2 linked regions of the Homo sapiens genome follow. The protein of the gene in region 1 interacts with the protein of each later gene in a pairwise test. Each region holds a gene or a part of one and is shown on either strand. Other genes may lie near its edges.

The links. The genes of interacting proteins can lie anywhere in the genome.
Region 2: the proteins of CCDC83 (region 1) and FAM161B interact in binary tests that used the Homo sapiens proteins (3 or more experiments, as listed by UniProt).

Annotation. Positions count from the first base shown.
Region 1 is NC_000011.10:85,913,902-85,921,203, forward strand, and holds the end of CCDC83 (coiled-coil domain-containing protein 83), read left to right. Parts: intron 1-1,517; coding exon 1,518-1,597; intron 1,598-2,126; coding exon 2,127-2,332; intron 2,333-5,447; coding exon 5,448-5,609; 3' UTR 5,610-6,112; downstream 6,113-7,302.
Region 2 is NC_000014.9:73,946,510-73,954,149, reverse strand, and holds the start of FAM161B (protein FAM161B), read left to right. Parts: upstream 1-4,057; 5' UTR 4,058-4,123; coding exon 4,124-4,177; exon of another isoform or gene 4,178-4,232; intron 4,233-7,544; coding exon 7,545-7,640. Other genes in the region: COQ6 (ubiquinone biosynthesis monooxygenase COQ6, mitochondrial), read right to left, coding at 581-715, 3,655-3,817.

The DNA of each region.
Region 1 (7,302 bases):
CCTGTAGTAGTACAGAAGTAACAGTAAACTAGCAATTAATAGAAAAAGCTAGATTCCTGAAGGTTATGGCATTTAGAAAGATCTTAATTGTTCACAATGGTAAAACTAGGAAACAAAAGAATTCTATAGCCTCAGACATGTCTCCCTGAAGACCACAGCTACATGTGAAACTTACGTTTACTAAGGTACCTTTACTAAACTTACCTTAACTAAAGTTAAGTTTTTAGAAGTTTTCATAGGTGTAAATATTGTATGTAGTTACAGTATTTGCTGGAGCCATTAGCATCTGGATAACACTTTATTCATGTTCTTTAAATAACTCACAGCCCCTAATTTAGGGGATTCACTTTACTTGCTTAGCTGCTAAGCGTGAAGGGTTGTTTGCACATTTGCAAGCGTTCAATTACTTCATGCTGTCTTCAGGTAAACCTCATGGAAATGCCATACAGAGTTTTCAAAGCATGATATTTTCTGATTGAAAATTCAGTGGACACTCTAAAAAGGAGAGCACAGAATTAAACAATGTAGAGAGAGCTACAACAGCATATGGACATCAGTTCGCTGGGCTTGTAGGTGAAGCATACCACTAAGCAAAAGCCAGGACCTAGATGGTATCTTGGATTCCTACTGTTCGCTTTCTCTTTCTCTCTTCATCTCAAAACGAAAACCACTCAAAAGTGGTCTTTCAGGACACTATCATTCCGCACCTGAAATACTACAACAGCGACCTGACTAGTGCCATGCTCACTCTCAATTTTTTGAACTTTAAGTGTGTTATTTCCTTATTTGGAATGCCCTTCTTTCACCCCTAGCTCTTCCCTGGCAACCACCTCCAGGTTCAAGACTGTATTAGTCCATTCTCATGCTGCTATAAAAAACTGCCCGAGACTGGGTAATTTAGAAAAGAAAGAGGTTTAAGTGACTCACAGTTCCACCAGGCTGGGGAGGACTCAGGAAACTTAGATTCATGGCAGAAGGGGAAGCAAACATGACCTTCTTCACATGGCAGCAGGAAGAAGTGCAGAGCGAAGGTTGGAGAAAAGCCCCTTATAAATTATCAGATCTCATGGGAACTCACTAACACGAGAACAGCATGGAGGTAACCGCTCCCATAATTCAATTACTTCCCACTGGGTCCCTCTCCCACAACATATGGGGATTATGGGAACTACAGTTCAAGATGGGATTTGGGTGGGGCCCAGCTAAACTGTATCAAAGACTAAGATCAGGTTTCATCCAGGAAAACTTTCCTTCCCCCTAAAGCTGACTCAGGTGCTGCTTCTTTCTGCATCCCATTATTCTCACACTATGGTAATTACCCATCATGGTACACACCATGACTTTAAAATACCGTAAGGCTGTCTGCCACCCCACTGGGCTTTATGCTCCTCAGGGTAGAAATTATGTCTCATTTTTCATCTATGCATTTCTAGCACCTAGTAGAGAGATAGACCCTAGTAAGCATGCAATGCAATATTTATTGACTGACAGATTGTTTTTCTCATTTGTTCTTTTAGGCGACTATATCTTACCCAAGCTGCTGGACTAGAAGTGCCACCTGAAGAAATGTCTTTGGAATTGCCAGAAACACATATAGGTATTACTTTATTGCAATAATGATGATGATTTTTTTCAAACTCTTGTTTTTCAATTTAAAAAACACTTACCTATTGTGAGCAGGTGCCCCACATACAAAAGCTATTCAGAGAATAGACACCTGCCAGCTTCTCTAAATTTCTCCTCTTGCAGTGCTTGTCCTAATCTATCTCCTGTCTGTAGTCCCACTTTCAAATTAAGGTCACCATGTTTCACAGTAAATTAAATAAATACTGGTGAAGAGGGATGAGACTGCTGTCTACACTGGCAAGGTTTAGGGCCCTATTTAGCCAACCAAAATGACAACATATACTTAGGCACCAATATAATTACTATAACTTATTAGCTAACAGAAAGAAATACAACTTAGAGTTTCTACAAATGGGACTCCCTCTTACTTTAATACATAAATTCTACATTTGCAATTCTCAAAGTTCCATCCAATTAAAAATGTGACAAAGTATGTATTGCATTTTTATTTGTATATGTTCAAAATGTATACATAATTAATTCCTTTGTATTTATCCAAGAAGAGAAGTCAGAATTGCAACCCACAGAAGTAGAAAGTAGAGACTTGATGTCCTCATCAGATGAGAGCACTATCTTACATCTTAGTCATGAAAATAGCATCGAAGATCTCCAGTATGTGAAGATAGATAAAGAGGAAAACTCAGGCACAGAGTTTGGGGACACTGATATGAAGTACTTACTATATGAGGATGAGAAGGATTTCAAGGTAAGATTCATAACAACACAACTTTGACTACTAAGAAAATGCTGTTTTGAGAAATGCTGTTTTAATTGAGAAAATTAACCTAAAATATGGATATTGAAAATTCCATTTGCAATTATTAGTAAAATTGGCCCACCATTCACATCTCTCATTTGGATACCATTTTCACTCCTACTCTTGCCCAATTTGCTACCTATATTCCTCTATAGGCCTCCATTAATAGTATACAAAGTAAGTTATCTAATGCTACATAACAATCCCCAAAACCTAGTGGCTTATAACAATAACTATTTATTCTCGCTTAGGGCTCTGTTGGTTAGAAATTCAGGAAGGGCTCCACTAGACAGTTCTCACTTGGTGGACTCTCAGTCAGTTGCAACCATATGTTGGCTAGGGCTGCACTCATCTGAAGGCTTGATCGGGGCAGGAGTCTTCATTTCCAAGGTGGTTTATATGGCTAGCATGTTGATGCTGGCTAAACTGAGGGCCTCACTTCTTCTTCACATGTGCCTCCTGACAGGGTGTTTTGAATTTCTTTTGTTATAGTGTCTGTCTTCTCCCAAAACAAGCAACCCTAGAGACCAAGATAAAAGCAGCAATTTGGCTGCAGTGGCTCATGCCTGTAACCCCAGCACTTTGGGAAGCTGAGGTGGGCGGATCACCTGAGATCGGAAATTTGAGACCAGCCTGGCCAACACGGTGAAACCCTATCTCTACTAAATATACCAAAAATAGCTGGGCATGGTGGTGCGTGCCTGTAATCCCAGCTAGTTGACAGGCTGAGGCAGGAGAATTGCCTGAACCTGGGAAGCAGAGGTTGCAGTGAGCAGAGACTGTATCATTGCACTCCAGCCTGGGTGACAGAGCGAGACTCTGAAAAGAAAGAAAGAAAAAAGAAAAAGAAAGAGAGAGAGAGAGAGAGAGAGAGAGAGAGAGAGAAAGAAAGAAAGAAAGAAAGAAAGAGAAAGAAAGAAAGAAGGAAAGAAAGAAAGAAAGAAAGAAAAGAAAGAAAGAGGGAAGGAGGAAAGGAAGGAAGGAAGGAAGGAAAGAAGGAAGGAAAGAAAGAAAGAAAAGAAAGAAGGCAGTTTTATATGGCTTAGCCTTGGAAATCATACATTGTCACTTCCATCATATTCTACTGGTTGATGTAGTTACAAAGTTCCATCCAAGGGGAAGGAACATAGCTCCTACATCTTGATGGAGGAAGGTCAGTATCACATTGTAAGAGAAGCACTTGGGATAGGATATGAATTAGGCTATCTTTGGAAAGTACAGATTGCACATATACCATTCATTAAAACCTGGAGTATTAAGCCTTTTAATTTTGAAACTTCTTTCTAGTACATTCCAGTTACTCCCACAGCCATCCCTTGTTATTTTCCCTCTTGATACTTTAAAAGTTCTCCTAGAATTTGATGTCTGGTAGTGGAAAAAATGATGTAAGAAAGCAGAAGAAACTGAATAAACCAACACAAACCATTTTAACTAACTACAATTCAATCCTGCTGCCATCAAGCGATGATTTAAAGACTAAAGTTCTAGTTCCTCTAGCACTGAAACATCTCCATGCGTATCTTGGAATCATGACTCCTGGGATGTCATGATGATCTCAGGCTAGTGGACAGTTGTCTACAAAATCCCCAAATAGCATACCATTTGGTTGAATGAAAGACTTACTTTCCATGAAAGTTTTTGATGTAGTCAAACTGCCATGGCCATGGTGTATTACTTGAGAATCCTCCTCCCAGTGATTCTGAAATATGTGGTAGGTCTCCATCAACTTGCTTTTCTACTATCTTACATTTATCACAGCTACATATTTTGAAAGCTAAATAGAATTATATGTATTTTGAGAAATAAGACATCACCTTCCTTTTTCATTCTTTGATTCTTCTAAATTCAAATAAATATTTATTGAGAACCCCACAACATGCCAGGTCCTTGTTAAATGCTTGTGCATTTAAGGGAGAGAACAGCAAGAAATGAAATCTCAAATATGCCTATACAGCAGGCCTTGCCCCCAAATCACTTACAGACTTGTAGAAGACAGGTAAGAAAATCAACAAGTACCATATAAGAGTAAACAGACCACCTGTACCTGTGTCCCTGATCAGTCTGTGCTTATCATTGCACCCCAGCACTTGATATAGGGCCTGGCATACAGTGAACACTTGGGAAAGGTTTGCTAAAGTGACGTGTCAAAGGAATTAAAAAGCAAGAGTTATGGCATGGGAGACTTCCTGGAGGAAGGGACATTGGGTAGGGCGTGAGCTCTGTCCACCCAGTTTTGGGTTGGCTATGGATTTCATATCAGTTAGACTTCAAATTCTGTTTGTTGATATCTTAGATTTGTAAACCAAAAGCTATCTGAGACAGGTCTCAATCAATTTAGAAGTTGATTTTGCCAATGTTAAGGACAGTACCTGGGAGAAAAAAAACCCACAAAATCACAGAAATAGTGTGTGGTCTGTGCCTGTCTCCAAAGATGACTTGGAGGCCTTCAATATTTAAAGGAGAAAAGTGGGCTGGAGGGGAAAGCAGGAAGGTATGGTCATCCACATGTTGCAAGAGAAAAGGAGCAGGTAGGGGAACAGTCAATTATGTATTCACCTCGCACTTTACAAAAGATCAGCTGAACATAGAGTAGCTACCTGTGGGGATATTTAACCTTTTATCTGTACATATCTGCTTAGGAACAAAAGCAAAGGCAGTTGCTTACATGACTCAGCTTTCAGCTTAATTTTTTCCTTTTGGCAAAGTGAATTGGGGTCCCATGTTTTTATTTTCCTTTCACAGACTATAGTTAGTTTTGCACTAACTATAGCCAGCATCCCTCCCCCATTAACCCACTATGAGACAAGCCTTCCAGCCTTGCTGCCTGCTTTTGGAAGATCTTGCCTACTGTGTATGCCCTACTGGGTATATAAGTTTCCTGAGTATTTTGTTTTTTTCCCATTTATAGTGGCTCTCATATTTCATGTGCTACACAGCATCAGGCAATTAGGGGGCAATGAAGTCTGTCAGATAAAGGCCAACTGTAATAAAGAAAGCCTAATCTATCAAGCTGGTAATTTGCTGAATCACCTCTCCTATTCTTTTTTGTGCCTGTTCACCATAGGATTATGTAAACTTGGGCCCCCTGGGAGTGAAGCTTATGAGTGTGGAGAGCAAGAAAATGCCCATTCATTTTCAAGAGAAGGAAATTCCAGTCAAACTCTATAAAGATGTCAGGAGCCCAGAAAGCCACATCACATATAAGATGATGAAGTCTTTTCTCTAAGACGGAAAGCTGCAAAGGAAACACAACTTTTCCTTATAAATGTTCTTTGGGAACTGAAGTATATCCGTTGCCCATTTTACTTACACTTTGGCTCATTTTTAAACCAGCTGTTATTTCTAAAGGTCATATTTACATTTAAAATCAAAGGTATTCAGCTATTCATTTACTTGCATGGTATGAGTGACCAAAACGGAAGCACGCTTTGTATTTCTACACTGAAGTATTCAGAAGCATGACAGTGGGTTCAAGGTAGTCTCTGAGGTTCCTTTTCACACACAAAAAATTCACTGATTAATCTGTGATTCCAGTATGAAATAGTTCCATTAGAAATGTTTCTAAGAAAAACTTAGAAGTTTGCATAGCATTGTCTACACATCTTTCCCTCTGAGGATGCTCAATGTGATAGACAGCCAGTCTATAATGCAAGCCAATTCTCCGTAGTTTAACCCTGTGTATTAGTCTGTTCTCATGCTGCTAATAAAGACATAATTGAAACTGGGTAATTTATAAAGGAGGTTTAATTTATTTACAGTTCAACATGGCTGGGGAGGCCTCACAATCATGTCAGAAGGCAAATGAGGAGCAAAGTCACATCATACATGGTGGCAGGAAAGAGAGGGCTTGTGTAGGGGAATTCCCATTTATAAAACTATCAGATCTTGTGAGACTTATTTACTACTTCAAGAACAGTATGGGAAAAACCTGCCTCCATGATTCAATTACCTCCTACCAGGTCCCTCCCACAACACATGGGGATTATGGGAACTATAATTCAAGATGAGATTTGGGTGGGGACATAGCCAAACCATATCACCCTGTTTATAATGAATATAAAAAATGAATGTTGGAAATAAACTTGAGAGTGTTAATTTGTTGTATAAAAATATTCCACTGATAGGGAGCACTCCCTCCCTCCAGCTGTATCTAGTCTAAACTACCACATTCCTATCCAAAGCAAATACCACTTCTCTCAGGGCTACCACAAGCCAAGGACACTGTGAGTACCTGGATGTGACATCAGCATTCCATTTGGATCCTTGAGACCAGATAATACCACCATATGTCATATTTCTGTAATCTTTAGTGATATAAGGATTAATTTAATCATCAGTGGGGGATGTTATTGGCATTTAAAGTAAGGACAATTGTGCAGCACTGTCTTGAGCCCACAGGATGTTAGCACTCCTGCTCCCTCAATCTCAAATGCTGCTACATTAACACTCTTCATTGTAGAAGTTGAAAACACTCGTCATCTTTCCCAACACCCCTTACATTGTAGTACCATCACCAATTGAACATCTTTGAGTTTCTCAATTTTTGGAGACAAGGACTCACTCTGTCACCCAGGCTAGAGTGCAGTGGCACTATCATAGCTCACAGCATCCTGAAACTCCTGGGCTCAAGCAATCCTCCTGCCTCAACCTCCCGAGTAGCTGGGACTGCAGGTCTGTACTATCATGCCTCAACCTCCAACAGTGCTAGGATTACAGGCATGAGCCACCGACCGGCCTCTCCTGTACTTTAATCTCCATTGTGTTCGGTGCTTTCCTGGACCCTTCCCATTCTCTCCCAAAACTTCCAACAACAACCTCTAAAAAAACAATAAACAAGACAAATGCCACTGTTGAAGGTGTAAATGTCCAAGGGGTTCACCTTGCCTGCTGCCTATACAGAGCCAATTCCTCAAGACAGG
Region 2 (7,640 bases), on another chromosome or scaffold:
AACACATAATATAATGCCAGGTAGTAGTAAGCATTATGAAGAAAAATAGAGCAGGGAAAGGGGCTAGAAAGTGATGGAAGAGTTCAATTTGAGATGGGGTGGTTTCAGACAGGATGGTCTGAGGGAAACATCTAGCAGACCTAATGACAATTTGCTAACTGGTTCCATGTGCACACATTATTCATCTGCACCCCAAGGGAATTTCACGTGTAAGCTCCCTAGCTTGCTAGAAGGCTTGACTCAGGATGAAGAGAGCCCTGCTATTCAAAGTGAATGTTCATGATTAGTTCATATGATTTCAGTTCCACCAATTCATAATGACACAACATCACAAGTGAAGTCAACATGATGGACCCACATGCCTCAAGGATGCATTCCTCAGACAGGGAGTTGAGGCAGTAGCAACTGCAGGGGTCCACATCTTCAACTCTGCCCTAGACTACCAATCCCACCCCCTCTCTCCACCCACCTCAGTGAGCTCCCTCCTTGTCAGATGCTCTGATGACTCTGCCCCATGGGATACACTAGAAAGCTAAGTGGGAAAGGAGATTGGATCTTTGAAGGAGGATCTTCTACTCACTACTGAGAAGCGTTGCAGAGCCAGGGGAAATGGAGCTGACCCTGTTGCTGTAAGTTTCTGACAATTTCTCCAGTACTTTCTTTGGACCTGCTTCGAGCAACAGGATTTTCTTGTCATGAAAGTGAATATCATATCCTTAAAAAAAGAAAATTTATATCATCTTAGGAAAATCAAGAATTTCCTTTCCCATTACCAAGAGAAACAACAGAGTAACCACTTAACCCTTAGAATATGAATTTCTTACAGAGAACATAAACACTATACCCATGCAGAGTCCTAAGCAATAACATATACCACCATTTTAGCTATGAGAACCACCCTGCCCACAACTGTAAGACTTCTCCAAAGACCACTACATGCCACGTGCCAAGAAGCAAATAATGGCAAACACCTAACTAGCAAACAGAATGCCCTAGAAAGGAAAAATGAAGTAAAAAAGTTAGACTACAGTATTTAAACACCAGTTCTTTTCAATCTCCAGAGTATTAAGTCACTAAAAATTACAACTCCTGTTCAAAAGAAAAAGTGGAATAAACAAGCAAAATTCAATGCAGTCTCAAGATTAAACCAAGAATAAAGAATTAGAGTTTATAAAGGCCGGTGCGGTGGCTCACACCTGTAATCCCAGCACTTTGAAGGCCGAGGTGGACAGATCACCTGAGGTCAGGAGTTCAAGACCAGCCTAGCCAACATGGTGAAACCCGTCTCTACTAAAAATACAAAAAAATTAGCCAGGTGTGATGGCGGGCACCTGTAATCCCAGCTACTTGGGAGGCTGAGGCAGGAGAATCGCTTGATCCTGGGAGGAGGAGATTGCACCACTGCACTCCAGCCAGGGCAACAAGAGCAAAATTCTGTCTCAAAAAGAAAGAATTAGAGTTTATAAAAGAAAACGTGAGCCAGGCATGGTGGCTAACGCCTGTAATCTCAGCATTTTGGGAGGCCGAGGTGGGAGGATTGCTCAAGCCTAGGAATTCAAGACCAGCCTGGGCAACATGGCGAGACCCTGTCTCTACAAAAAAAAATTTTTTTTAACTAGCCAGGCATGGTGGCACACCTGAGCTATGTTTGTGCAACTGCAGTCCTACCTGGGGGACAGAGCAAAACCCTGTCTCAAAAACTACAAAAAAGAAAAGAAAAGAAAGAAAGGTCAGGCACAGTGGGTCACACCTATAATCCCAGCACTTTGGGAGACTGAGGTGATGGATCAGTTGAGCTCAGGAGTTCAAGACCAGCGTGGGCAACATGGTGAAACCCCATCTCTACTAAAAACACAAAAATTAGCCAGGTGTGATGGCGGGCGCCTGTGGTCCCAGCTCCTCAGAAGGCTGAGGCAGGAGAATCACTGGAACCTGGGAGGCAGAGGTTGCAGTGAGCTGGGATCCTGCCACTGCACTCCAGCCTGGGTGACAGAGCAGAGACTCTGTCTCAAAAAAAAAAAAAAAAAAAAAAAAAGTTAGCTCCAGCCATACAGACAGTGAGCGGTCCATCTTGGCAGCTTTTGCTGTGGAGGATGGGGCACAGGGACATGCTCTGTAGAGCATGCTCTGTAAAGGGCACTATCTTCTTTTTTTTTTTTTTTTTTTTTTGAGATATCGAGTTTCGCTCTTGTTGCCCAGGCTGGAGTGCAGTGGCGCGATCTCAGCTCACTGCAACCTCCCCCTTCCAGTTTCAAGCGATTCTCCTGCCTCAGCCTCCCAAGCAGCCATGAGAACCACCCTGTTACAGAAGTCTATGATCTGCTTTAAGTTAAATTTTGTGTATCTTGTGAGATGAGGATCATAGGGTGGAACAGCTGCCCTTAGATCAGGGTGTCCAATCTTTTGGCTTCCCCAGGCCACAGTGGAAGAATTGTCTTGGGTCACATATAAAAAAACACTAATATTAATGATAGCTGATGAGCTAAAAAAAAAAAAAAAATCACAAAAAAAAAATCTCATAATGGGCCAAGCATGGTGATTCATGCCTGTAATCCCAGCACTTTGGGAGGAAGGGGCAGGTGGATCACGAGATCAGGAGTTCGAGACCAGCCTGGCCAATATGGTGAAACCCCGTCTCTACTAAAAATACAAAAATTAGCCAGGCATGGTGGCACAAGCCTGTAATCCCAGAGGTTGCAGTGAGCTGAGATCGTGCCATTGTACTCCATCCTGGGCAACAAGAGCGAAACTCCATCTCAGGGAAAAAAAAAAAAGTGAAAAGACTACAAAATGGAAGAAAATATTTGCAAGTCATTTATCAGATAAGGGACTTATACAGAATAAACAAAATAATGGCCAGGCAGGGTTGCTTATGCCGGTAATCCCAGCACTTTGGGAGGCTGAGGCAGGTGGATTGCTTGAGCCCAGAAGTTCCAGACCAGCCTGGGCAACATAGTGAGACCTCGTCTCTACAAAAAAATACAAAAATCAGCCGAGTGGTGGCGCATTCCTGCAGTCCCAGCTATTTGGGAGGCAGAGGCAGGAGGATCAATTCAGCCAGGGAGGTTGAGGCTACAGTGAGCCGTGATCGTGCCACTGCACTGCAGCCTGGGCACAGCGGAAGACCCTGTCTCAAAAAATAAAAATAACTCTTACCACAGTATTCAAGAGACAAACTGCTCAATTAAAAACCGGGCAAAGGGTCTGAATAGGCATTTCTCTAAAGAAGATATACAAATGACCAATAAACATATGAAAGGATATTCAACATCATTAATCATTAGGGAAATACAAGTCAAAACCTGGAGATCCCACTTTACTTACACCCACTAGAATGTCTATAAACAAAAAGACAATGACAAGTACTGTCCAGGATCTGGAGAAACTGGAACTCTCATTTATAAATAACCCCGGGAAGGCCTGTTTTCCCATGAGTAGAACAGACTCTGAACGCCCCTCCCACTTTTGACCCTAATGGACCCTGAAGGACCACACGCATTCCGGCGTGCCCTGGGGTTCCTCTAGGAGGGGAGGGGAGAAGCGTCGCGAGACCTGAGAAATTGTCTTTGGGCAAGTCGTGCTAGGGCTCTCACGGCTCTCATCGTGCCTCCGCGGCCCGGTTTCCGGCCACTAGTAGCCTGGAGAAGGGCTTACCCAAGGCACAGGCCATGGCAGCGCCCACCAGGCCTCCACCCGACACCACCACGTCATACACGGTGTCTGTTGAGGCGCCGGACCACCTGCGCCAGGACACCAGCGGGCCGCTGTGGGGAGCTGCACGCACAGCCCCGCATCGGCTGACAAGCCGGGCCGCCATGGTGCAGACCTGCGCCGTCGCACTCAGAACTCCCGCAGGCCCACCTACGTAGTGCGTCCGGAGCAGAGCACTCCAATCCCGTCCCGCTTCCGCGGCGTCCTCAGAACCGGAAATAAAATGCGCGGAGAAAATAGGCCAATCGGAAAACGAACCTTGCCTCCTCGGGCGGGATGGATCGGAGGCTGCCCTGGAAGCCAACCAGACGCCAAAGCTAGAAAGGGGTGGACCCTGGCCCCGCATAGCTCTCGCTGCCACCGCTGCTGCCACTATCGCTGTCACTGTCGCTGCTGCCTCTGTCCAGCTGAAATGACCGTGGGGAGGCCTGAGGGAGCCCCCGGAGGCGCGGAGGGGAGCCGTCAGGTGAGGAGAGAAAAGAGACTGCCCCCGGGAAAGGAATCCCGGAGAGGAAACTGTTGGGCGTTGCCTTGGAGACAGACAGCAGGGGCGTGTCACGGAGGGGCGTGGGATTAAAATGAGCGTTTAGGGACCAGGAGGCGGACTCTGACTTACAGACCTGAACCTCTCGGACTTTATACGAGGCTCTTGATAGGCAATGTCACTCAGTTTTCGCTTATCCTCTTAGTACTCTATGACCAGTAGTACAATTGTCGTCTCATTTTTGTAGAAGAGAAAACTGAGGCACAAAGAGATTAAGAAAATTGCTCCCCAAATTTGGCCGGGCGTGGTGGTTCACGCCTGTAATCCTAGCACTTTGGGAGGCCGAGGCGGGTGGATCACCTGAGGTCAGGAGTTCGAGACCAGCCTGGCCAACATGGTGAAACTCCGTCTAAAAATTTAAAAAAAAAAAAAAAATTGGCCAGGCGCGCTGGCTCACGCCTGTAATCCCAGCACTTTGGGAGGCCAAGGAAAGCGGATCATGAGGTCAAGAGATCGAGACCAGGCTGGTTTCCATGGCAAAACCCCGTCTCTACTAAAAATACAAAAATTGGCCGGGTGCGGTGGCTTACTCCTGTAATGCAGCACTTTGGGACCTGAGGTCAGGAGTTCAAGACCAGCCTGACCAACATGGAGAAACCCTGTCTCTACTAAAAAAAATACAAAATTAGCTGGACGTGGTGGCACATGCCTGTAATCCCAGCTACTCGGGAGGCTGAGGCAAGAGAATTGCTTGAACCTGGGAGGTGGAGGTTGCAGTGAGCCGAGATTGTGCCATTGCACTCCAGCCTGGGCAACAAGAGCAAAACTCTCTCAAAAACAAAAACAAACAAACAAAAAAATACAAAAAATTATCTGGGCATGGTGGTGCGCGCCTGTAGTCCTAGCTACTCGGGAGGCTGAGGCAGGAGAATCACTTGAACCCGGGAGGTGGAGGTTGCAGTGAGCCAAGATTGCACCACTGCACTCTAGCCTGGCGACAGAGCGAGACTCCGTCTCAAAAAAAAAAAAAAATTAGCCAGGTGTGGTGGCGCGTGCCTCCAGTGATCCACCAGCCAAGGCCTCCCAAAGTGCTGGGATTACAGGCGTGAGCCAGTGCACCTGGTGGACCCCAAACTATTAAAGGCAAAAAGTAGATTGGCAGTTGCTTAGGGCTGGTGGGGTGGGGTGTGGAGGGTTAGGGGAAATAGGGAGTGACCACTAAAGCGTGTGGCATTTCTTTTAAGGGCGATGAAGGTGTTCTAAAATTGTGATGGTAGTTGCACAACTCTGTGTATATACTAAAACCACTGAATTGTACACTTTAAATGAGTGAATATATTGTATAGAAATTATGTCTTAATAAAGTTGTCTTTAAAAGAAAAGAAAAAACGTGCCCAAGATCACACACTGTAGCAGAGCCAGGGCTAGGGTGCATACATATCTCTGACTCTTACCCTGGATTTTAGTAAGCCTGGCTCCTCATCAATCAAGTGTCAATTCAAAATTCCTCCACAATGAAAAATAAAAATCAGCCCAGGACTGAGAAAGTATAACTCAGACTGTCATAGGCATAGATAATGCCAACGGCAAGAGCATCAGGAAACAGTGTTTCTCTCAGGGCCATAACATAGGTGCAAAATTACTAACACCCCTTCTTCCAAAAGGCTTACTGATCAATTACTTACCCACCCTACTTTATTCTTCTCACCTTTTGAATAAGTATTGCCGTTGGGCGGGGCCCAATGGCTCACGCCTGTAATCCCAGCACTTTGGGAGGCCAAGGCAGGCGGATCATTTGAGCTCAGGAGTTGGAGACCAGCCTGGGAAGCATGGTGAAACCCCATCTGTACAAAAAATACAAAAACTAGCCAGGTGTGATGGTGTGTGCTGTAGTCCCAGCTACTCGGGAGGCTGAGGTGGGAGGATCATCACCTGAGCTCAGGAGGTTCAGGCTGCAGTGAGGCATGATTGCACCACTGCACTCCAGAACCTGGGTGACAGAGCAAGAACCTGTCTCAAAAAAAAAAAATTGCTCAGTCATTCGCTTAACTAAATTGTCCCCACTTCATGACAGCACCATTCCAGAGTTGATACCTGGTTCCCTGAATCAATCAGGGAAGCCAACCCTATAAAAATCACACCCTCAACCCTAAGTTCCCTGTGGTTTTCCGTAGTGTCCTGCAGCAAGTTAATAAGCCTAACTGATGTACTGATTACAAGTACATTCCTAATAACCTTAATCTGATGGACTTTATCAACCAAAAAGCTTTCCATAGGCACTCCATCTTTTTATAACCTCACAGTTGTTTATGGTTTTCACAGAATTTATCATCATCTTATATTGTCTGTCTCCTCTTACTACAGTGTAAGCTTCATGAGAGTAAGGACCTTGTTTGTCTTGTTCTCAGCCAAATGCCCAGTGCACATCAGGCACCCAGTAAATATTTTATGAATGAATGGAGTACTGAAAAAGTTAATTGTGTGTCCCACTTCTTAAGACATTGCTCTTCCAGCCAGACCATACTGTCTGTCTTGTTAATCATCCATTCCTTTTTTTTTTTTTTTTTTTGAGACGGAGCATCACTCTTGTTGCCCAGGCTGGAGTGCAGTGGCGCAATCTCATCTCACTGCCACCTCCGCCTCCCGGGTTCAAGCGATTCTCCTGCCTCAGCCTCCCCAGTAGCTGAGATTACAGGCACCCGCCACCACGCCCAACTAATTTTTGTATTTTTGTAGAGACGGGATTTCACCATGTTGGTCAAGCTGGTCTTGAACTCCTGACCTCAGGTGATCCACCTCCCTCGGCCTCCCAAAATGCTGGGATTACAGGCATGAGCCACTGCACCCAGCCATCATCCATTCCTTGACAGAGTGCAAATTAGCTAGAACATGAGGAAAGCAGAGGAGTAGAAATAAGGGAAGGGAGAGAAGGAAGATGAGCAAGAAGTAGGTTAAAACCCAAGTAAGGGAGAGTGTGGCCATCATCATGGGCAGGATTCCTGGAGTGCAGGGGTCAGAAAGCCTGGTGTAGGTGAGGTACTCTGTAAAAGCTTACTGCACTGTATGGCATAGGGAACCAACTTCAGCTCTTCACTTCCCTCTCCATCCCTTCAACCAAGCGCACTTCATAGACCAAGTTGTGAAATTTCTTTAGACCAAGAAACACACCTTATTTTTAAAAATTCCTCCCAAAGTGTTGGGATTACAGGTGTGAGCCAGTGCATCTGGCAGACCCCAAATTCTCCCCAGTCCCTAATATACAGAAGCTTATTCAAAGCGAAATTAAGTTATGATTTGAATACCTTTGAAATTATTGTTTGACCCACAGCCTATTTCTATTCTATTTTAGATATTTCCCCCCGAGTCCTTCGCAGACACAGAGGCAGGAGAGGAGCTGTCCGGGGATGGGCTGGTTTTGCCCAGGGCCAGCAAACTTGACGAGTTC